Linked DNA regions of Homo sapiens. The gene in region 3 interacts genetically with the main gene of each other region. Each region holds a gene or a part of one and is shown on either strand. Other genes may lie near its edges.

Region 1 (6,391 bases), on a different chromosome or scaffold from region 3:
TACCTTACATGGGCTGTATATGGTAAGGAATGGAAAGTGGCACTGGGACTTGAGAAGAGGAATTCAGGGGATTCTTTTTTCAGATATAGTTGAATAAATAACATTCTCTAAGTCATTGACACATTGGTTTTAACTAGTTATTAAGATTATTAGGAAGAGGAAGAAAATTTCATGTTTCTAAACTTTCTTTTAGAACACGAGGCCCTTTGAGAATCTGATCAAAGCCATAGACCTTCTCCCTAGAAAAATATACATACGTATGTGCTTCATTTTGCATGCAATTTCAGGGGAATCAGAAACCTATCCCCTCTTCCAGTCAGTAATCCCTGATTAATACAATATTGCTGGCTGGTGGGTTTCTAATGGTGTTCCTGAGTAGCCAGTGGCAAGATAAAGAGCACTTGTCACTGGGCAGCGGGGTAGAAATAGAGTGGAAACTTACATCAAAATTTTGATTAAATGATAAATGCATAATTGATCATTTAATTATTGTTATACAATTGTTATAAAATTAATATCATTTATTGCTGTATTGTTGTCAGTGTTATCTTAAAGATTTTGCTTTTTCAAAGAAAAGTATGTTCTTTCCCATATTGTAAAATAAGGTATATAATAAGAGATAAAATTGCCCATTCTGTATACGATTCTTATGCTTTACATTGTCCCCATTTTAATTATACAAAACCACATCTAATAAAAACGTCAAGACAGATATCTACAATCCCACATGTTAAATAATTTTTCCTTTTTCCTTTGAATCTCTGTTCTTTCATGTACATAATTTTTACATTATTGGGATAATTTTAAATTCTGTTTTTACTTGTGAGCATTTTTTTTCTTGGTGCTCAGTCTTGACCAAAATTAGGTCTTTTAATTACTTAAGATTTTAGTAATGTTAATAGGTATATATAGTTACCTGCAAAATGTGATATTTTTGTTGTTTTGATTTTCTCCTTCCTTTCCTGAAATCCATCTCCCTGAAGTCCTCATCTGTGCTCTCTTGACTCCCTTGTAGGATTTGCCACTAGTGAGTAAAGATACTTTTCAAGTCTTTATTTAATGTCATTTGGTCTTCACAGTAATCCGGTTAGGTAGATGAACATTTCTTTGTAGTAGCAATGGCCTCTTCTGTCCTTTTCAGTCCCTTAACTTCTGCCCTAGTTTTAGACCCTTATTACTTTATGCATGGGTTTTGTCCCTGCTTTCAGGGACTTGCCCTTTCAATCCATCCTATACAGCACATCTAGATTATTCTTCCTAAGGCATGACTTTTATCCCATCACTTCCCTGCATAAACTTCAGTGGGCTTTATATCTTAGCCTTAAAAATTTCCACCTAACTAGATTGCTAGCCATATTGTAAACTGTTTCTCTACAAATACCCTGTCCCTCCAGTCACCCTATATTGTTCCCTGTTCCTTGGACCATGTGCTTTTTTGTGTCTGTTCTTTTTTTTATGCCACACCCTATGTCTGAAATGCCCTCTCTCTAACTGGTGCCTATTTTTCAAATGTTAGTTCAAAGGTCAGTCCGTTCCCTGAAACCATTCCTTATAAGCTAATAAGACTTTGATTTCTCCCTCCTCTGAACTCCTACAACACTTTTTCCTACAAGTAGTTATGTATCTTGTGGAGGAGATAAGATTTTATGTGCCTAAAATGCTAATATATTCCAATCATCTTTTTGTTTTTATCTTCCACAGAGCTAGGCACGGTATGTTACATGTAATAGGTAATCAGAAAATATATGTAAAATGAATGATTAAACTCTATAACCAAACCAAAGCAAAAATCTAACATAATAATTAATAATATTTGCTCCACTGCTATACATTTGGAATTGAAAGCTAACTTTCTTCAGGGCAACCTCATAAGTTTGTCCGTTGCATTTCTGTCATTAGGCATATGGTACCGTGGTGGAGTAGCATCACTGATTGTTGTCAGTTTTAGTTCAATAACCAAAGCACACTTACTTTTTATCCTAAAATTTTTGAGTTACTTTATTTGTGAGCATCATTTGCTAAGATAAAGTGACTTACAGGATAACATTCTTTGAGGAATAAGATATAAAAATTTGCTGTTTGTAGAAATTTTAACTGCACACTGTATTTTGGGATGTTCATTAGTCCTCTGATTAAGTTTTCTTTACAATATCTAGAGAGGGATGGATATTAAAGTAGGGAAACCGCATCCTAAGGGTATAGTTCCTTAGGTGCTGATGTTTTGGGAGAGCAACTTTTAAACTTCTGCTTTTCAAAGCATATTAGAAAAAGACAAGGTGAAGCTTCGATTTTGGTTTACTTATAAAATTGTTTTTACTGATCTTGAGTAACTTATACTATAATATTGTAATATATTCATATTTTTGAGTGCATGAATGTTTGCTAAGTATGAACTCTTTCTTCAACTACTCTGACTGTAGTGACTTAATAACTGTGCATGTACATGTGTGCTTGCCTGCTACGTTTGCCATAACACCACAGATTGGGTGGCTTATACAACAGAAATGTATTTTCTCACAGTTCTGGAACCCATGAAGTCCAAGATGAAGGTGTCAGTAGAGTTGATTTCTTCTGAGGTCTCTCTCCTTGGCATGTAGATGGCCATCTTATACCTCTGTCTTCACACTGTCTTTTCCACTGTTTGTGTCTGTGTCCTGATATCCTCTTCTTAGAAGTATACTGGTCATATTGGATTAAGGCCCACCTTAATGACCTCATTGAACTTTAATTACCTCTTTAAGGGCCCTGTTTCCAAATATAGTCACATTCTGAAGTATTAGAGGTTAGGACTTCAACATATAAATTTGTGGGGGTGGGGAGTACACAGTTCAGACCATAACAATGTGTGTATGTGTTTGTATGTGTGTGTATGTATATGCAAATACATAGAAAATTGGAAAGATATACTCCAGTCTGGTAAAAGTGGTTACCTCGGGGGTTGGGGGGGGGTTTGGGATGCTAAAAAACAAACAAAAAAAATTTAATTTGCTATTATGGATACACAGACATAGTTTGATATACTGTACTTGTTTTTACAATGAGAAAAATATTTCATGTTTAAGCTTTTCAATTGATGAACTGACCTTTTTGAGTAGGTTATATTATGTTCATTTATTTGAAGTCCAATTTGTTTTGTCTGCTAGTAGTAATGCATTTTATCATCTCTGTAACTTTTATTTTATTTGTTTATTTTTTATTTTTTATTTTTTTGCGATGGAGTTGTGCTCTGTCACCCAGGTTGGAATGCAGTGGCACAATCTTGGCTCACTGCCACCTCTGCCTCCCAGGTTCAAGCGATTCTCCTGCCTCAGCCTCCCAAGTAGCTGGGATTACAGGCGCACACCACCACACCTGGCTAATTTTTGTATTTTTAGTAGAGATAGGGTTTCGCCATGTTGGCCAGGCTAGTCTCGAACTCCTGACCTCAGGTGATCCGCCCACCTCGGCCTTCCAAAGTGCTGGGATTACAGGCCTGAGCCACCACGCCTGGCCTTGTAACTTTTATTTTAAGTTCAGGAGTACATGTGCAGGTTTGTTACATAGGTAAACTTATGTCATGGAGGTTTGTTGTACAAATTATTTTATCACCCAGGTATTAAGCCTAGTAGCCATTAGTTATTTTTTCTGATCCTCTCCCTTCTTCCACCTTCCACCCTCTGATAGGCCCCAGTGTGTGTTGTTTCCTTGTATGTGTCTATGTGTTCTCATCATTTAGCTCCTACTTGTAAGTGAGAACATGTAGTACTTAGTTTTCTGTTCCTGTGTTAATTTGCTAAGGATAATGGCCTCCAGCTCCAGCCATGTCACTGCAAAGGACGTGATTTTGTTCTTTTTTATGGCTGCATAGTATTCCATGATATATTTGTACCACATTTTCTTTATCTAGTCTGTCATTGATAGGCATTTAGGTTGATTCCATGTGTTTGCTATTGTGAATGGTACTGCAATGAACATACGCATGCATGTGTCTTTATAATAGAATGATTTATATTCCTTGGGGTACATACCCAGTAATAGGATTGCTGGGTCAAATGGTAATTCTGTTTTTCATTCTTTGAGGAATTGCCACACTGCTCTCCACAGTAGTTGAACTAATTTACACTCCCACCAACAGTGCATATAAGTGTTCCTTTTTCTTCATAACCTCACCAGCATCTGTTATTTTTTGACTTTTTAATACTAGCCATTCTGACTGGTGTTAGGTGGTGTTTTGTTGTGATTTTGATTTGCATTTCTCTAATGATTAGTGATGTTGAGCATTTTTTTTTTTGTGTGCTTGTTGGCTGCATGTATGTCTTCTTTGGAAAAGTGTTTTTTTCATATACTTTGTCCACTTTATGTTTTTTTTTCTTGTAAATTTGTTTAAGTTCCTTATAGATGCTGGATATTATTAGAGCTTTGTTGGACGCATAATTTGCAAAAATTTTCTCCCATTCTATAGGTTGTCTGCTTACTCTGTTGACAGTTTCTTTTGCTATGCAGAAGTTCTTTAGTTTAATTAGACCTCATTTGTCAATTTTTACTTTTGTTGCAGTTGCTTTTGTTGTTTTTGTCATGAAATCTTTTCCCGTGTCTCTGTCCTGAATGGTATTACTTAGGTTGTCTTCCATGGTTTTTATACTTTTGGATTTTACATGTAAGTCTTTAATCCATCTTGAGTTAATTTTTGTTTATGGTATAAGGAAGGCTCCAGTTTCAATCTTCGGCCTGTGGCTAGCCAGTTATCCCAGCACCATTTATTGAATAAGGACTCCTTTCCCCATTGCTTGTTTTTGTCAGGTTTGTTGAAGATGATATGGTTGTAGGTGTTAGGCCTTATTTCTGGAGTCTCTATTCTGTTCCATTGGTCTGTGTGTCTGTTTTTGTACCAGTACCATGCGGTTTTGGTTACTGTAGCCTTGTAGTATAGTTTGAAATCAGGTAATGTGATACCTCCAGCTTCATTCTTTTTTCTTAGGATTGCCTTGGCTATTTGGATTCTTTTTTGTTTCCATTTGGATTTTAAAATAGTTGTCTCTAGTTCTGTGAACAATGTCAATTACCATTGACATTTAATAGGAGTAGCATTGAATCTATAAATTGCTTTGGGCAGTATGACCATTCTGACTATATTGATTCTTCCTATCCATGAGCATGAAATGTTTTTCCATTTGTTTGTGTCATCTCTGATTTCTTTGATTAGCGGTTTGTAGTTCTCCTTGTAGAGATCTTTCACCTCCTTATAGTTAGCTGTATTCCTAGGTATTTTATTTTCTCTGTGGCAATTGTAAATGAAAGTTTGTTCCTCATTGGTGCTTGGCTTGATGGTTGTCGGTGTATAGGAATGCTAGTGATTTTTGTTTTTATTTTTTTATCTTTTTATTTTAATTTTTATTTTTTTAGAGCCGGCCTTGACTCACTGCTAGTGATTTTTGCACATTGATTTTGTGTCCTGAGACTTTGCTGAAGTTGTTTATCAGATTAAAAAGCTTTTGGGCTGACACTATGGAGTTTTCTAGATACAGGATCATGCCATCTGCCAACAGGGATAGTTTGACTTCTTCTCTTCCTATTTGGATGCCCTGTATTTCTTTCTCTTACCTGATTGCCCTGGCCAGAACTTCCAATACTGTGTTGAATAGGAGTGGTGAGAGAGGGCATCCTTGTCTTGTGCTGGTTGTCAGGGGAATGCTTCCAGCTTTTCCTCATTCAGTATGATGTTGTGATGTTGGCTGTGGGTTTGTCACATACGGCTCTTCATATTTTGAGGTATGTTCCTTCAATATCTAGTTTATTGAGAGTTTTTAACATGAATAGATGTTGAATTTTATTGAAAGCCTTTTCTGTATCTATTGAGATAATCATGTGGTTTTTGTCTTTACTTCTGTTTATGTGATGAATCACATTTATTGATTTGGGTGTGTTGAACCAACCTTGAGTCCTGGGGATAAAGCCTACTTGATTGTGGTGGATAAGCTTTTTGATGTGCTGATGGATTTGGTTTGCCAGTATTTTGTTGAGGATTTTTGCGTTAGTGTTCATTAAGGATATTGGCCTGAAGTTTTTTTTGGTGTTGTGTCTCTGCCAAGTTTTGGTATGAGGATGATGCTGGTCTCAGAATGAGTTAGGGAGGAGTTCCTTCTCAATTTTTTGGAATAGTTTCAGTATGAATGGTACCAGCTCTTTGTACATTTGGTAGAATTCAGCTGTGAATCTGTCTCGTCGTGGGCTTTTTGTGGTTGGTAGGCTGTTTATTACTGCCTCAAGTAAAGAACTCATTATTGGTCTGTTCAGGGATTCAATTTCTTCCTGGTTCATGGAGATCCTCCCATACTCTGAGCGATCACTCCTGCTTGTGGGACATAGAGAAGACACCAATATCTGAGATGGCCAGCACCCCATCCCAGAATAA
Region 2 (6,391 bases), on a different chromosome or scaffold from region 3:
CCTAGAGCCTCTCCCTGCTGTCGCAGGCTAGCCCACTCTAGCATTTCCCCTCCTTGCAGGCCCGTTCTGCGCACTACAGGAGATGATATGCACAGAAACAGACACACAGCCAACGTTGGAAGGGGTGCTGTGTTACTGAGGCGCAGCACACAAAAGCAGGAGACACTCAGCAGACATTGGAAGGGGCGCTGTGTTACTGAGGCACAGCACACAAAAGCAGGAGACACTCAGCAGACATTGGAAAGGGCGCTCTGTTACTTAGGTGCAGCATGGTACCATGGGAAGGGCAGACACCAGGGTGAATCCTGGCTCTGTGATTTAGGCAGCTTATTTCATCACCCTGAGCCTCGGTTTTTTCGTCTGTAAATGAGTATGAGAATACCTCCCTCACAGGATTATATGTGACATGATTAGAAAATGCCTAGCCAAAAAAAGAATAAAAAATTTAAAAAATAAAAAAATCTAAAATACCTAGCCAGTAGTAAGCGCGTGCGCTCTCGCGCTCGCTCGCTCGCTCGCTCTCTCTCTCTTTCTATACACACACACACATATTCTCATCTGCCTTTTTTAGGTCTGTCTTTCCTTGTTTGTAGGATAAGGGACCTGGACAAGATGGTTCTCTTCTCTCCAGCTCTGAAATACTGCCTTCCCGGCATCATCTAATTTCAGGCAGAAAAGCCAGTTTTCTCAGTGTGTCGAACATAACCATTTCAAAGGCCATTTTGTCTAAGTTTAACTGGTCGTGTTTTTCTTGTTAACTCAGGTGACATCTGTTCCCGAGCTGTTCCTGACTGCAGTGAAGCTCACCCATGATGACACAGGAGCCAGGTATTTACACCTGGCCAGAGAAGACACGAATAATCTGTTCAGGTGTGTGGTGCATTGTAAGAACATGGTCTTGAATGTTTTTATTTAAATCAGGAATGTCCATTCTTTTGGCTTCCCTGTGCCACAATGGAAGAAGAACAACTGTCTTAGGCCACGCATAAAATACACTAACACTAAGGACAGCTGATGAGCTAAAAATAATAAATAAAGGACCCCTCAATGTTTTAAGAAAGTGTATGAATTTGTGTTGGGCTGCATTTCAAGCCATCCTGAGCATGCGGGCTGCAGGCTGCGGGTTGGACAAGCTTGATTTAAAACATGGCTATACATTACGTGGTTTAAAATATCATCTCACTAGTATTTTTATTGACAGAGCATCTTGAAAAATAAGGAAAAGTTTACACTGACTTATAATCTCATCAAAATACAATTTTACAGTCTGAGTCAATGATTTACATTATAGTTGGAAAACCCTGTGCTGGAGGATTGTGGTGTCAGAATGATGATTTCTAGTAGCCTGAGGTGATGATGCATCTGGGAACTGTGTCCGCAGCACTAAGCTGAACCTTTTGCGTTCTGGTCATTCTCCTTCCCTAGCGTGCAGTTCCGTACTACTCCCATGGACAGTACTGGTGTTCCTCACATTCTTGAGCATACCGTCCTTTGTGGGTCTCAGAAATATCCGTGCAGAGACCCTTTCTTCAAAATGTTGAACCGGTCCCTCTCCACGTTCATGAACGCCTTCACAGGTAAGACCAGCATCCTGAACAGAAACTGCTTTTGGGTTTGCCAGGCACACCCACTGGAATTCAGTTAGTTTCTGAGAAGGAATGAGGGGAGTGGGCAATTCATGTTCTAGAAAAATTTTTACCTCTCTCTAGTTGAAGGACATTAGAAATTTAATCCTTCAGGAAAGCCACATGGTAGCGAGATTGTAAAAACTAGCGTTTTAAGAAAACATATGTGAACTTTTCCCAGAAAAGTTCAAAACAATTTTCTCTTGGAGATATCGCTACAATGCCAGAGTTACTACTAATGTTGATGTTTGACTTTTAGTAAGACTGACGATAGTGGATAGGGTGACGATGAACAGTGCATTCTGTGGGGGAGTGACATTGAAGAGCGGGTTAAATCCATGCTGTTACAGAATGAGGTCATCTTTGTAGATGTATGAAAGTCTCTGGAGAAACTTGAGAGAGTTTAGATATTCGCTGAAGAAAGCCCTGGTGCCCGTCGAGTGCAGATCCTGAGACGGGATGGGAAAGCCGGCACTTGGGGTTATGAGCTGGGACAGCTGCTGAGGCCAGGGACCAGAGCATGGGGCCACTGCCCCATCCCAAGAATAGCTACAGCTTACTGTCCTAGGACAAAGGGGGAATGAGTCTTGAGAGTCAATAATTTTAGTAGAAATCTGTTATATTTTACAATTTCACTTTTCATTTGTACCCAGCTAGTGATTATACTCTGTATCCATTTTCCACACAAAATCCCAAGGACTTTCAGAATCTCCTCTCGGTGTATTTGGATGCCACCTTTTTCCCATGTTTACGCGAGCTGGATTTCTGGTATGTCATGAATGATTAACTAGTTGATACAGACTTTAGTATTTGAGTCACTATCAGCTTATAATGATTTGTCCTCAGGCAGGAAGGATGGCGGCTGGAACATGAGAATCCGAGCGACCCCCAGACGCCCTTGGTCTTTAAAGGAGTCGTCTTTAATGAGATGAAGGGAGCGTTTGTAAGTTTTCTTCCTTTTTTATGTTGTGTTCAGCTTACCTTTCCCATGTACAATATCATGATATAGACACATCTGGAAGATTTTATTTAATATTCTCATTATAGGTGATACATTCTTGAATTAGCTGGGGTCAGTGCTGTGAGCAGAAGTCGGGGTAGCAGGGCCAGGCTGCTGTTCTTCCCAGCAGGTCTCAGACCATGTCTGGGGACCCCTGGTATGTGATCTGCAGCAAGTCTGTGAGATAAAAGCTATTTTCATACCACTACCAAGACAGTGTCTTTTCATTCATTCTTGCCCAAGTACACGGTGTACTTTCTAGAGGCTGCATGGCAAGGTGTGTGACACACAGCGAGCTGCATACAGAGCAAATGGGGGAGTCCAGCTTCACCTCTGAGCCAGACGCTACAGAGATTTGCAAAAAAGGCAACACAGCACCACTCTAATCAGTTTTTTACTTTGTTATGAGAAGTATTTTTCAAAAATATTTATATCAACATGTAATGATGGCTTACCTTAATGAATAAGTATTTTTTAAATGTCTCAGCTTTAATTTAGAATATAGAAAAATTATATAAACACACACAGGCACCTACACAGGCAAAAACGCCCACATAATCAAAAGCTGTTTGGGTCCTCATTAAAACGCATTTATGCCTAGTGTTCCATTATTGGCACCCTAAGCTTGTGGGAGTTATTTATGTCCTACAGCTCAAGGTCATCGCCAAGGTCTGATTTTTTACAAAAAAATTGCAACCTCAGGCATAAATGGGTTAATTTTTCAGAGTGTAAAGGATTCTTGAGACCATTTTGGATTAAGAGCTGCTGTCCTGGGCCCATGTCTTCATGTCCCTTTGTGACTTGGACAACCTGTCTGTCCTGGTGTCCCTGAGGCTCATGGGTGGCCTGCTCTCTGATTCCCGTAGCTCCTCTCGGCTGGTGAACTATTTCTTACCTTTTCATTCTCAATTTGGTGGTCTTTTCTTCCAAGGAGTCTTCTTGAACTCAAGTTGGGGTGACAGCTTCTCCCCACTTCCCTCACGGCTGGTGGGCAGACCGACTGATCCATCCCGATTTACAGCCCTCAGCTATGCGTTTGTTGCACCACACATCAAAAAATCCATTGTTCTTCTCAATCCTTGGGTCCTGTGCGTGGGTGATGAATGATTGAATACCGTGTTAAACAATGCCTGCGTGGGTGTTTTTTTTTTTTTTTTAAACCATTAGAACAGCTTTATTTGCAAAGTATTACAGGTGTATGCACCAGAATGTGATCAATTGGCTATATTGTAAGTAATGTAACGTGTGTATTATTTTACATGTATACTTATGATTTATTTATTTTACGTTTCAAGACAGACAATGAGAGGATATTCTCCCAGCACCTTCAGAACAGACTTCTTCCTGACCACACGTACTCAGTGGTCTCCGGGGGTGACCCACTGTGCATCCCGGAGCTTACATGGGAGCAGCTTAAGCAGTTTCATGCCACTCACTATCACCCAAGCAATGCTAGGTAATATTTTGTTGGAAAAGTTTGATGGTGGATTGTGAAAAGTTGACTTGTTTGTGTTCTTAACAGTTTATGGCATGGCTTCTCTCACATTTAGCAATGCTTAAGAAATATCTAAGTCTAGGTAAGATTCTTGGCCTAAGTTTGCCTATCTTACTTGGACATTGATTTTGGACATTTACAATGATAGCCCTCAGGAGGCTCAGCATGGTGGTTACAAACACAGCGTTTAGAGTCCCCCAGAGGAGGGTCCTGGCCCCGCAGCCTGTTGCCTCACATCTAGCTTGGTTGCGTGGAAAGTGGGGGTGCATGGATGGTGCCCACCTTGACACGGGGTGTGAAGCTTGAAGCCCTCTCCTTGGCACGGAGAAGTGCTCTTCCAATAGTGGATGCAGTTACTGAACCTTAATTACATCCTCACTTTCTGATACATTGCTTGTTCTTATGTCACTAATACAAGGTCATTATAATAATAATATAGTCATATATCTTATATAAAACACTAATTGTATTTACATATGAATGCTAATGTAAAAACATATTTGCAAGATTATTTTATGTAAAAATAATTATGAAAACTTGAAGCATACAGAAAAGTAGAGATACTAGAATAATGAGCCCCTAAACACTTATCATGTAATAGATATCCTTTCCCTTGCTGAAGTTTTTGGAAGTAAATTATAGACGTCATGATCATTTGCCCGTAAATGTTTGAATTTGTGACCCTAAAACGTGAGGATTTTTTCTTACATGAGCTAATGCCATTTTCAGTTTTAATAGAATAAAACATACTTTCTTAAAACTGCCTATTTCTTATTCCATATTCAGATTTTCTAGTTGGCCCCAAAGTGTTTGTTGCACGGGGTCCCACAGGTCACACCTGGTCGGCCCGGGTTTCTCCTGGGCACCCTCTAGGGGACGGCAGAGGAGTGTGCAGGCCCAGTTTCTTTCTGGCGCACTCACTTTCCAGGTGGCCTGGCTGTTCCCGCCTGGTGTTGGGTGCCATGTTCCTGTGTTTCCTGAGCACTGGAACTTAGATCCAAAGACTTAGTTTGAGTCAGGCTGTGCCTTTGTAAGCAGAGTCCCTCATGGGGAGCTCTCCATAGACGGCCACATCCTACCATCATGTGAGGTCTGCTCGCCTCCACTGGGGATCTCACACCAGCGGGGTCCATGCTGAGAGTCAGCCACTGCCTTGGGAAGATCTGCTTTTTCCCTTCAGCCACAGACCATCTGGTGGGCTTGAGTTTCTGGTGTCCTGTGATAATGAGTTCCTCATCAACCTATTAATGGTTTTCATATTCATTGAGGATTATTGCCTGAATCAATTACTTTATTAGAGTTTGCGAAGTTTTCTAGTTCTGTAACTTCTTCATTTGTTTGCTGGACTTCTTCAAAGAAGAGCTCCACATCAGCTGGGCTATCGGGTTATCTTGAAATATGGTTCTGTGGAAAAGGCAGGGCCGGCTGCTCTCCCTGGGAAGTCCAGTTTGAGGAGGAGGGGTGGTGCAGGAACTACTTTTAATGGTGACAGAAGAGGCTGTCTTGTTTTTTTTTTTTTTTTTTTTTAAAGACAGGGTCTGGTTCTGTCCCCCAGGCTGGAGTACAGTGGCATGATCTTGTCTTACTGCAGCCTCAGCCTCCTGGGCCACCTCAGCCTCCTGAGTAGCTGGGACTACAGGCGCACGCCACCATGCCCAGCTAGTGCTTATATTTTTTTGTAGAGACAGAGTCTCGCCATGTTGCCCAGGCTGGTCTTGAACTTCTGAGTTCAGTCTGCCCACCTTGACCTCCCAAAGTGCTGGGATTACAGGTGTGAGCCACTGCGCCCAACATGGAGAAGAGAGTTCTTTCTTTTCTTCTTTTTTTTTTTTTTCCCCAGTCTTGTTTTGTTTTTTAGTACCACTCTGACCTCACAGAAATATTTCTGTATATGTATATATTTGAGATTATGTGATCAGATGGAATTTATTCATTTTTATGCCCACATTTGCCCCAGCTGTGGGCCCGTTTTGGTCTAACTTCTTTGGTTTCTACGCCCCCACCCCCACCTCCCTAATGCACGCACAGCCGGGCCCTCCCTGCTCCAGAGGTTCAACTGTCTGTTTCCCCAGGGAGCTCTGATTTCTGTGGCTAATGGGGAAGGGTCTTTGGAGAGCAGCATCTGAACACTAGGGGTGGTGATTGCTCCTGGATTCTCTCAACCCCGAGTGTGTAAAATTTGTTTCTAAATTCTAGAGTGAGAAATTTCTGAAGGTTCTGTAAGATACTAGTTTCCCAAACCTTAACCATAGCTCAGGCTATATAGTAAAG
Region 3 (3,500 bases):
GTCTTGCTCTGTTGCCCAGGCTGGAGTGCACTGGCATGATCTCGGCTCACTGCAACCTCCGCCTCCCAGGTTCCAGCTATTCTCCTGCCTCTGCCTCCCAAGTAGCTGGGACTACAGGTGCGTGCCACCATGCTTGGCTAATTTTTCTATTTTTTTTAAGTAGTGACGGGGTTTTACCATGTTGCCCAGGCTGGTCTCAAACTCCTGACCTCAGGTGATCCATCCATCTCAGCCTCCCAAAGTGCTGGGATTACAGGTGTGAGCCACCAAGCCCGGCCAAAACCCAAATCTAATCACTACTCTTGGCCTTATTTCAATTGACCAGGTGTGATGGCTTACGCCTGTAATCCAAGCACTTTGGGAGGCTGAAGTGGAAGGATCACTTGAGCCCAGGAGTTCAAGACTAGCCTAGTCAACATAGCAAGACCCCCATCTCCATTAAAAATTTAAAAATTAACCAGATGTGGTGGCGCATGCCTGTAGTCCCTGCTACTCGAGAGGCTGAAGCAGAAGGATCACTTGAGCCCAGGAGGTGGAGACTGCAGTGAACCGTGTTTGCACCATTGCACTCCAGTTTCAGCAACAGAGCGAAAACACGTCTCAAAGAAAAAAAAAAAAAACTTTTAAGTGGCTTCTCACTGCTCTAAAACTCTTTAGCATCCCTTACAGGGCCCGGATGCCGTGGCCTCTGCTTCTCTCTGTTTTGCCTTCTCCACTCCAGCCACAATGACCACTTCCAGTTCCTCATCTATACTGGGCACCCTCCTACCCTAGGGCCTGTTGCTTCTGCCTGAAACCCTCCTCTCCTCCGCCCCATTTAAGTTAACCCCTCCTTCTTCAGATCTGAAGGCAATCATCACTTCCTCAGAGAAGCCTTTTTAAGCTATCTATTAGTAGTGGCTATTTCTTTTGTAGGACTAATCACAGTTATAACTTTACTGTTCTATGTGACATTAATTGATCAATATCAGCCTCCCTCATTAGACTGGAAGTTCTGCAGGAGAAATCATGTCTACTTTTTGCTTCCCTCACATCCTCAGCTCACAGAAAAGTACTTATAGTTTAAAAGGAACTTGGTATTTACTAAATGAGCAAACAGTAATGAGAAAAGATGTTTAAAGCAGTAATATAGAATTTGTGGTGAGGGGACCGTCAGCTTGGAGATATGTTCACAGCATTAGGACTGGGTTGTAGGGATAAGAGAAACTCAGGAGTTGCAGTCAGTGGGCTCAGCTGCCCAATTTTAGACGTCAGGGCAGCATGAAGATCTGGAGTGAGGGCAGCGTGCTACTGACTTTGCGTGACCTTGAACAAATGACTTCATTCCTCTGAGCCTCAATTTCCTCATCTGTACGTGGAGATAATATTAGTACTGGTGGTTGTGGGGATCAAGTTAAATGAGATAAAGCACGTAAAAGCATGTATTCTAGGCCAGGTTTGGTGTCTTATGCCTATAATCCCATTACTTTGGGAGGCTGAGATGGGCAGATTACCTGAGGTCAGGAGTTCAAGACCACCCTGACCAACATGGCAAAACCCTGTCTCTACTAAAAATACAAAATTAGCCGGGCATGGTGGCACACACCTATAATCCCAGCAACTTCAGAGGCTGAGGCAGGAGAATTGCTTGAACTCAGGAGGTGGAGGTTGCAGTGAGCCGAGATCGCACCATTGCACTACAGCCTGGGCAACAAGAGCGAAACTGTCTCAAAAAAAAAAAAAAAAAAAAAAAAAAAAACACTTATTCTAGCCCTATAGTAAACATTTGACTTTGAGCAGCTCACTGACCTTAATTTAGATTAATTCCTAAATTTTCTCCTGTAAGGTATCTGCTATGGCCCAGGTAAAATTAATGTTCAAGGGCATAGAGCTAGTTAATTTTAGGGTCAGGGCTTAAGAACCTCCAGGTTCCTAGTCTGTTGTTCTTTTGTGGACACCACACTGCTACCTGAGAGATGAGTTTCAAACACCGGACTGGGAGTCAAGTGACTTGGATTCTGTTCCCAGCTCTTCCACTCATCACCCATGGGACAATTCCCCCAATACCTGTCATTTCCTGCCTTACGGATATAATGTATTTGACAGTGCTTCGAAAGACGACACCATATAAATAACTGACACTATTTATATCTGGAAAATGAGATTACTGGAAAATTCCTCATTTTCTAACAAGGAAACGAGAAATATGAGATAGCTGCTGCTTTATTTTGTTTGGCATCTTCTCCCTTATGACACAACATGATGTAAATGTTTTCATTTTCCTGAGAGGCTATACAGTTTGCAAGTGGTTGCCGGAAACACTCAGTAATGCTTTACTGATAGGTGTTCCCAGCATGTTAATGTTCTCCTTGCTGAAATGTCGAAGACCCAAACTGTTTCGTGGAGATAATCAAAGTATATCTTTGTCTTTTTTTTTTTTTTTTTTTTTTTTACTGATTCTATAGCCATTTTATAAGCCTTGGTGATTGCTCCTTAGACCTTTCATGGTTGGAAAAACAGTGTTATTAGGGTAAACCAGAGTTGTGCTAAACAGCAGCTGCCATCATGGTACACACAGAGACAAAGGTTATGAAGCCTTACCCTTGAATACAAACTTCCTCCTTTGTTGTGTTCAAACCAGCATGATTACAAAGTTTAAGTATTGTCTTCATATTATGAGTCTATTTCAATGGAAAAATTAACAGAATGGTTTTCTTTTTCAGCTAAACAGAAAGAATTTACTGACAATGTGAGCAGTGCTTTTGAACAAGGTACTTTCTTTTCTTCACTTTCTTAAATATGGAAAGAAATTTCAAGCACTGAAGCATAGCCATTCATTCAATAACTAGCTATTATATACCTTCCTATGATAGCTATATAGGGAGATATGAAATACTTATGAGTCTACATTTCTGTCTTTAAAAAAATGCCTTTAAGAATCTACATTTCTGGCCAGGCACGGTGGCTAATGCCTGTAATCCCAACACTGGGAGGCTAAGGCGGGCGGATCACGAAGTCAGGAGATTGAGACCATCCTGGCTAACACGGTGAAACTCTGTCTCTACTAAAAATACAAAATTAACTGGGTGTGGTGGCACAACGCCTGTAGTCCCAGCTACTTGGGAGGCTGAGGCAGGAGAATCGCTTGAACCAGGGAGGCGGAAGTTGGAGTGAGCTGAGATCGTGCCACTGCACGCCAGCCTGAGTGACAGAGCGAGACTCCATCTCAAAAAAAAAAAAAAAATCAACATTTCTGCCTTTCTAGAGAAACAAACTATATCAAAAAAGTGATCTGGGAACAGTGACTCACGCCTGTTATCCCAACACTTTGGGAGGGTGAGGTGGGCAGATCACTTGAGGTTAGGGGTTTGAGACCAGCCTGGCCAACATGGTGAAACTCCAGCTCTACTAAAAATACAAAAATTAACTGAGTGTGGTGGCATGTGCCTACAGTCCCAGCTACTCAAGAGGCTGAGGCCAGGAGAATTGCTTGAACCAGGGAGGCTGAGGTTGCAGTGAGC
Region 4 (3,500 bases), on a different chromosome or scaffold from region 3:
TGGGTGAGGGTACAGCTGATCTTATTTTTTTTCTAAATATGACAAATAGTAAATTATGGATGATGGTTTTTCTTAATATGTAGCAATAAAATAGAGATTATTTGGTGGGAATAAAATATTTTGTCAGGACAGCAGTTTGTTAGTTACCATGTTTGTAGACTGTTTTGACTCTCTTAAAAGTTATTACACAAAACATTTCCCAGTGGAAGAATTAACAACAAAATTTAGCAGTTTTAGAGCTAATTGGTAAACTCATTATTTTTGTTTAGAGAGATAGTCTCGCTCTGTCACCTAGGCTGGAGTGCAGTGGTGTGATCTCGGCTCGCTGCAACCTCTGCCTCCTGGGTTCAAGTGATTCTCCTGCCTCAGCCTCCTGAGTAGCTGGGATTATAGGCTCCTGCCACCATAGCTGGCTAGTTTTTATATTTTTAGTAGAGATGGGTTCTACCATGTTGGCCAGGCTGGACTTAAACTCCTGACCTCAAGTGACCCACCTGCCTCGGCCTCCCAAAGTGCTGGGATTATAGGCGTGAGCCACTGTGCACGGCCATTAGTGAAATTTTTAACCTTTAAGGTCCTTCTGTAGTTGTAGTTACTACTTTGCAATTTTGGATTCCTAATAGACTTTCATTAATAATGTTTAAATGGCACTTAACACAAGTACTTTTGTGTATATATTATCCATTTGATGTGCATAGGTGTTTCCACCTTGCAGTTGTGGAAATTGAAGCTCAGACTCTGACTTGCCCAGGATTGCATAGCTATCAGGTGGCTTACTGTGGACTCAAGTGCGTGTCTTCTTACCAGATTCATTTGCTTTGTCAAAACAATAAAATAAGAAACCTATCACTTGTAAATAACTAAAATACTTAATATGATACCCTAACTTTTGCATTAAAACAAAAATGACAGCAACGATGGAGGGTATGTTGGTTTGAATAACAAAACCAATAGAGACAGTTTTTGTCCCAGGACTAATTAGGGACCAAGAACATATGGCTAGGCCAAGGTTCTTTAAAGAGTTGTTCATTCCAGCCTAGTTCCTTCCTTTATTTACACAGAACAACAGGGAAGGCAAAAAGGAGAAACAGAAAAAGGAAGGATGAAATTAAACGACTTTTTTCCCCCTTTTCTCCTGGCATCTAGCTGGGAACGACAGAGCTTCTGCTAGTGGGAGTGGAAAAACAGGGGCTTTCCCTGAGGAATGCAAAATGGAAGTGCTCTCTGAAGCAGCTCCAACTTTGGGGATTTACTTGGGGTTTTTCACCCTTCACCCTGGGTGTGAAGCCTGGTATATGAAGTAATAATTAGATGTTTAGACTAATGGTCTCCAGGTTTTTATGATCACTTATTCTTTTTTTTTAATTTTTATTTTTTATTATTATACTTTAAGTTCTAGGGTACATGTGTACAACGTGCAGGTTTGTTACATATGTATTCATGTGCCGTGTTGGTGTGCTGCACCCGTTAACTCGTCATTTACATTAGGTATATCTCCTAACGCTATCCCTCCCTGCTCCCACCACCCCACGACAGGCTCCGGTGTGTGATGTTCCCACCTCGTGTCCAAGTGTTCTCATTGTTCAATTCCCACCTATAAGTGAGAACATGCGGTGTTTGGTTTTTTGTCCTTGTGATAGTTTGCTCAGAATGATGGTTTCCAGCTTCATCCATGTCCCTACAAAGGACATGAACTCATCCTTTTTTATGGATGCATAGTATTCCATGGTGTATATGTGCCACATTTTCTTAATCCAGTCTATCATTGATGGACATTTGGGTTGGTTCCAAGTCTTTGCTATTGTGAATAGTGCTGCAGTAAACATACGTGTGCATGATGATCACTTACTCTTATTGGTAAGAAAGTTGATCATATATCCTTAATGTATGTATACTTGTAAGTTAAATACATGTGCTACTATACTAACATATATTAAATACACATTTAAAAAAAAGATTCAGATTAAAACAGACTGGGAAATAGGAGCCCCCCTCCCTGCCTTTGGAAACTACCAGGGTAGACCACCAATCCCACATAAAGGAGGATTTTCACACAGGAATTCTTGTCCTTCCATTTGTCTATGGGCTCTTTCTCACCCATTTTACTGGACTCTGTTCTCTTATCTGGACAGATGGGTTTTATTTGGTTTTACAGATAATTTTTTCCTTTTGGTCATGATCTCAGCCACAGCTTACTATAATAGTTTGTTCTGTCATGTTCTTAGTATTTGAACATAATCAGTTCTGAGACAGTGCCCCTTAAAGTGAACTTAATTAAAACAAGCAACAACAGTTTGTAGTAGAGTAAAAAATGAAACCTAAACCAGACACGGTAGTACATGCCTTTAGTCTTGGCTACTTGGAGGAAGCTGAGGCAGGAGGATTGTTTGAGCCCAGGAATTTTGAGTCCAGTCTGGGCAGCATAATGAGACCTTGTCTCTTAGGGGAAAAAAAAGAAACTTAAGATTGTAAGTTTATTTTATAACATTAATCGTATTAATGAAATTTAGATTTATGATTGCAACTATGTACTAATTCTTCAAGAATGAAGCACAGTTTTTTTTTTGGAGAGGTATGCGCTTTTTCTGATAAAATTGCTTAATGGCCTAATATAACATGTTCCACTTCACTTTTGGCTTTTTGCAAATTAGGGTTTGAGAACACACAATTCTGTGATTCATTTGGGGCATATTTTAGATTGTAAGGATTCTTTTCTCTGTTGCCCAGGCGAGAGTGCAGTGGTGCAATCGCAGCTCACTGCAATCTTTGCCTCCCGAGCTCCACCCATCCTCCCATCTCAGCCTCCCGAGTAGCAGGGACTACGGGCACATGCCACCACACGAAGCTAATTTTTGTATTTTTTGTAGAGACAGGATTTTGGCATGTTCCCCAGGTTGGTCTGGAACTCCTGGGCTGAAGCCCATATTAGCCTCCCAAAGTGCTGGGATTATATAGGTGTGAGCCACGGTGCCTGACCAGTTCTTTGCTTCTTAACATAGCACTGTCATTGCTGTGGGAACTTGCATAGTAAATACTTGGGTGATACAAACCCTCTGTACATTGCTAGCTAGGTATTTTCAGACTAATATATATAACTTTGTAATTTTCATATAGAACAATCTATATTAATATGCAAATTTCCATAGCATTTTTTAAGTAGGTAGAGTCATTACAAGGTGATGGCAAATTTATACTTTTTCCCCAAGGAAAAAATCTTTTGTACTATAGGGGTTTATATGTTAAATTTTAATTTTGTCCTGTTAAGTATATCTGATGTTTTTCTCCTAGGCTAATCATTTAGTATTGAGTGATGGGTCAGTGTCATGATTTCTGATTTTGGTTTAATAGATTTTAATAGTGAAAGTTAAGATTGCTGGCACGTTTTCTTATATTTTATTTTCAATTAGCTGTAGAAATTCTTGCTGATATAATACAAAACAGCACATTGGGAGAAGCAGAGATTGAACGTGAGCGTGGAGTAATCCTTAGAGAGATGCAGG
Region 5 (3,500 bases), on a different chromosome or scaffold from region 3:
GCTAGACCTTAGACAAAGGACCAAGCATATCCAAGCTTTAGGTTCCTCATCTGCAAACAGGAAGAATAAAGTCCATCCCAGATGATTTTTTCAATGGAGGGAAAAAGCAGACTTTGCTTCAGCTATTCATCAAGGCAGTGGCAAGGCCAAAAACATTAGGTGTCTCCTAATTTTGTTCTTTATGGCTACCAGTTTAAGCTGCCTCTCCCCCATCAAAAAAAAAAAAAAAAATTTCATGTTATCATGTACATTTTTCTCCAGTTAGCCTCTTTAGGTTTTCCACAGAATTTCAAAATATAAGCATTGTAAGGGCTTAGATGCCAACAGATTCTAACCCCATCTTCTAGAGATGAGCAAACTGATATTCAAAGTGGGTGTCTTGCCAAGGTCACATTGTAAATTAAACCAACAACTGAATCAAGGATTACACACTTCTAGCCTGAGGCAAATTCCACAGGATTACCTAGATTCAATTTATCAGCCAATCTTTGTTCAGTACCTTCTTTTCCTACAGCTGAGGGACATGGATCTTCCTACTGCCCTTAACCATGAACATTTAAAGAGGCATAATTTTGAAAAAGCATTTTAAGCTGGTCCATGGGGATGCAGGGAAGATTAATATGTGATGAATAAATTAAAGTTTGCAAAGCACCTATGAGCTTCTCAAAGAAAAGGTGAAGTATAAAAGTAATAAAAGCACTGTTATTACATAGAAAGGTCAGACTACAAGAGAAAACATAATCTGAGAACATCTCAGCACCAAAGTCATCAGCAAAGGTCCCATAACTTATCTTTTAATTAACATTAACATGGCATTTGAAGACCTTGCCTTTCAATCAGCTAATTTGGAAAAAAAATCAGAATATGGCTTTGCAACTGCTTTGTTTTAATTAATTTTATTTTTTATTAATTTAAAATGAGGGGCTTCTAGTTCTCTACAAATTATTATTACATAAAGGGTTAAGTCACTCTCTGAGGAATTCTTTTAAAAGTGGCATGTTGCTGTTGATAAGGAACAGGAACTTAATACCCAGACTGCAAAAATAAGATGACTTTATTAGTATCCTAGCACCTTCATATCAAAGCTTTAAATGTCATACTGTAGTTCCACAAGACTTACCTCTTATTATTGCTTTGAGGTGGCAGGGTTTTAGCTTTCTGGCAGCTGTCACATCATTGAGAGCAGAACGAAAATTGCCTAACAAAACACCGTTTAGTAAAAGAGAGAAGTTTTGAGATCAAAATGTTTCCAAAATTTTATATGTAGTGACAAAGACACTCTTGTACAATCCTGGGGAAATACAAATGAGAGCAACTGTTTTTTTGAAAAAATATGGTTGTACTTGTCAAGAGCCTTAGAAATGTCTATAACAGGCAATCTACAGAACTGTAAATGGCTAGTAAGCACATGAAAAGACGTTCAACATCACTAATGATTAGGAAATTAAAATTAAGAAATTGCTAAAAGTTAGACAAATAATATCTAGTATTAGAAAAGATATGGAAAAGGGGTACTCTCAGGGTAAATTAGAAAGCAAATTAGCATGTATTTTGTACATATACTTTGACACAACAATTTTCTTCTGGAAAATTATCAAAAATACTTGAACAAATGTGCAGGGATAAATGTAAAAGCATGTTAACTACAGCATTACTTTAATTGTGAAAAGCTGGAGATAACTCAAATATCCTCAATTTGGTAATGATTACATGAATTATGGTAAATCCATACTATTGAATACTATGCAGCCATTAAAAAGAATGAGATAGATCCTCATGTAAGAAACACGGTAGGATGTCTGTTCTATATTGTTTTAAGTGGTGGTTCTATGAGTATAGAGGAAGCCTATTTAAAAAAAAAAAAAAACTAAATATCTAGACACACATGTATATATTTGTAAGTGCATTAAAAAAAAAAAAAAAGTATGCAGTCACACACATACCAGTTATCCAAACTAGCAAGCCATGAGGTATACTTTAACTTTCTGGAGTATACTATAATTATTACTTAATGGTTTAGTATTTACCTAAATCTCTAGCCCAGGGGTCAGCAAAATATTTTGTAAAGGGCCAGATAAATATTTTAGGTGTTGCAGGCCACATGTGGTCTACTGCACATTCTTCTTCATTTTATTACAATTCTTGAAAAATGTAAGAAACCTCTGGGGAGGTGGCTCACTCCTGCAATCCCAGCACTATGGGAGACCGAGGTGAGAGGATTGCTTAAGACCAGGAGTTCAAGACCAGCCTGGGCAATATAGCAAGACTCTCTCTCTACAAAAAATTTTTTAAAAATTAGCTGGGCATGGTGGTACATGCCTATAGTTCTACCTACTCGGGAGGCAGAAGTGGGAGAATTGCTTGAGCCCAGGAGTCTAAGATTGCACTATGCTATGATCACAGCTAGTACACTCCAGCCTGAACAGAGTAAGACCCTGTCACTTTAAAAAAAAAAAAAAAAAAAGTATGGAACATTTTTAGTTCATGGCAAGCCAAGGGGCCAGGGGTGGACTCTGAGTCCTAGTTTGCCAAATCGTGCTTTAGCCTAATGAATAATCAGAATTATCAGAAAAATATTATGACTTTATTTATTTTTGCATTATTTATAAAAACCAAAAAACAGTCTATATACTCAACAATAGCAGACTAATAAAGCAAACAGTATAAATAGTGGCATGTCCATATGATGCAACTTTAGCTATTGAAATAACATTCAGAAATGATTTTTAATGACGGTGAAATTGTTTGTTATAAAATTAAGTGAAAAAACTGAATATCAAACTGGAAGAACAGCAGGATCTCAACCATGGAAAAAAATGCACATGAAAGGGATCCAAGGACTTTTAGTTAAAGGAGGCAGATTGAACACATACATTTAACTCAATCCCCACTCTCTCTCCCATAAAGACAAAGAAAATGAGAAGAACACAGAACACATTGTGAAAGCTGGAAAACAAAGGAACAAGTAACTGATGTATCAGGCTTAAGGAAACTGAATTCTAAACCAGTAGAGGGAAAGCACAAAAGCTACCAAGCTGCACTGCAGAAACTACAAAGTACTCAGGACTCAGGAACTGATGGCACCAGGTACCTCTGGAAGTGGGGGTGAAGGTGGGTTGAAAATCTACTTAAGAAGCAGTCAGAGTCCCATATTCCTTACCCCTCTGCTGCACCAGTGACCTACTCCTCCCCTGTTCCTCCAGGTGGAGGACTGGAGGTTTACCCTAGCAGACAATAAAACAGTAGGTCTCTGGACTGGAACCCCCAGGCACAAAGGTGATTCAGTAAAGGAAATATTAAAGATTGAGCCCTTGGTCCTCTTCTCCTACTTGGTTCCCAAAGTACCAGCAGCCAGGATTTCCAAAAAGAGAAAAAAGAGTAAAAAAGAAAAAGAAAAATATCAAAGCATTCAGGAAAATGTCCTAGAAACATGAGTTTCCAGACTGAAAAGGTCCACTGAGTACACAGCACATTGGGAGACCAAGGCAGGTGGATCACTT

The links.
Region 1: changes in HSCB (region 3) and ABCB7 together harm fitness more than expected from each alone (negative genetic interaction), as found in Homo sapiens cells (one large-scale study listed by BioGRID).
Region 2: changes in HSCB (region 3) and PITRM1 together harm fitness less than expected from each alone (positive genetic interaction), as found in Homo sapiens cells (one large-scale study listed by BioGRID).
Region 4: changes in HSCB (region 3) and PMPCB together harm fitness less than expected from each alone (positive genetic interaction), as found in Homo sapiens cells (one large-scale study listed by BioGRID).
Region 5: changes in HSCB (region 3) and TTC4 together harm fitness less than expected from each alone (positive genetic interaction), as found in Homo sapiens cells (one large-scale study listed by BioGRID).

What each region holds. Positions count from the first base shown.
Region 1 is NC_000023.11:75,144,935-75,151,325, reverse strand, and holds part of ABCB7 (iron-sulfur clusters transporter ABCB7, mitochondrial), read left to right. Parts: intron 1-6,391. UniProt on the Homo sapiens protein: Exports glutathione-coordinated iron-sulfur clusters such as [2Fe-2S]-(GS)4 cluster from the mitochondria to the cytosol in an ATP-dependent manner allowing the assembly of the cytosolic iron-sulfur (Fe/S) cluster-containing proteins and participates in iron homeostasis.
Region 2 is NC_000010.11:3,161,415-3,167,805, reverse strand, and holds part of PITRM1 (presequence protease, mitochondrial isoform 2 precursor), read left to right. Parts: intron 1-763; coding exon 764-870; intron 871-1,425; coding exon 1,426-1,577; intron 1,578-2,278; coding exon 2,279-2,393; intron 2,394-2,471; coding exon 2,472-2,568; intron 2,569-3,920; coding exon 3,921-4,081; intron 4,082-6,391. UniProt on the Homo sapiens protein: Metalloendopeptidase of the mitochondrial matrix that functions in peptide cleavage and degradation rather than in protein processing. Has an ATP-independent activity. Specifically cleaves peptides in the range of 5 to 65 residues.
Region 3 is NC_000022.11:28,748,539-28,752,038, forward strand, and holds part of HSCB (iron-sulfur cluster co-chaperone protein HscB isoform 1 precursor), read left to right. Parts: intron 1-2,702; coding exon 2,703-2,750; intron 2,751-3,500.
Region 4 is NC_000007.14:103,300,435-103,303,934, forward strand, and holds part of PMPCB (mitochondrial-processing peptidase subunit beta isoform 1 precursor), read left to right. Parts: intron 1-3,407; coding exon 3,408-3,500. UniProt on the Homo sapiens protein: Catalytic subunit of the essential mitochondrial processing protease (MPP), which cleaves the mitochondrial sequence off newly imported precursors proteins. Preferentially, cleaves after an arginine at position P2.
Region 5 is NC_000001.11:54,718,861-54,722,360, reverse strand, and holds part of TTC4 (tetratricopeptide repeat protein 4), read right to left. Parts: intron 1,199-3,500; coding exon 1,121-1,198; intron 1-1,120.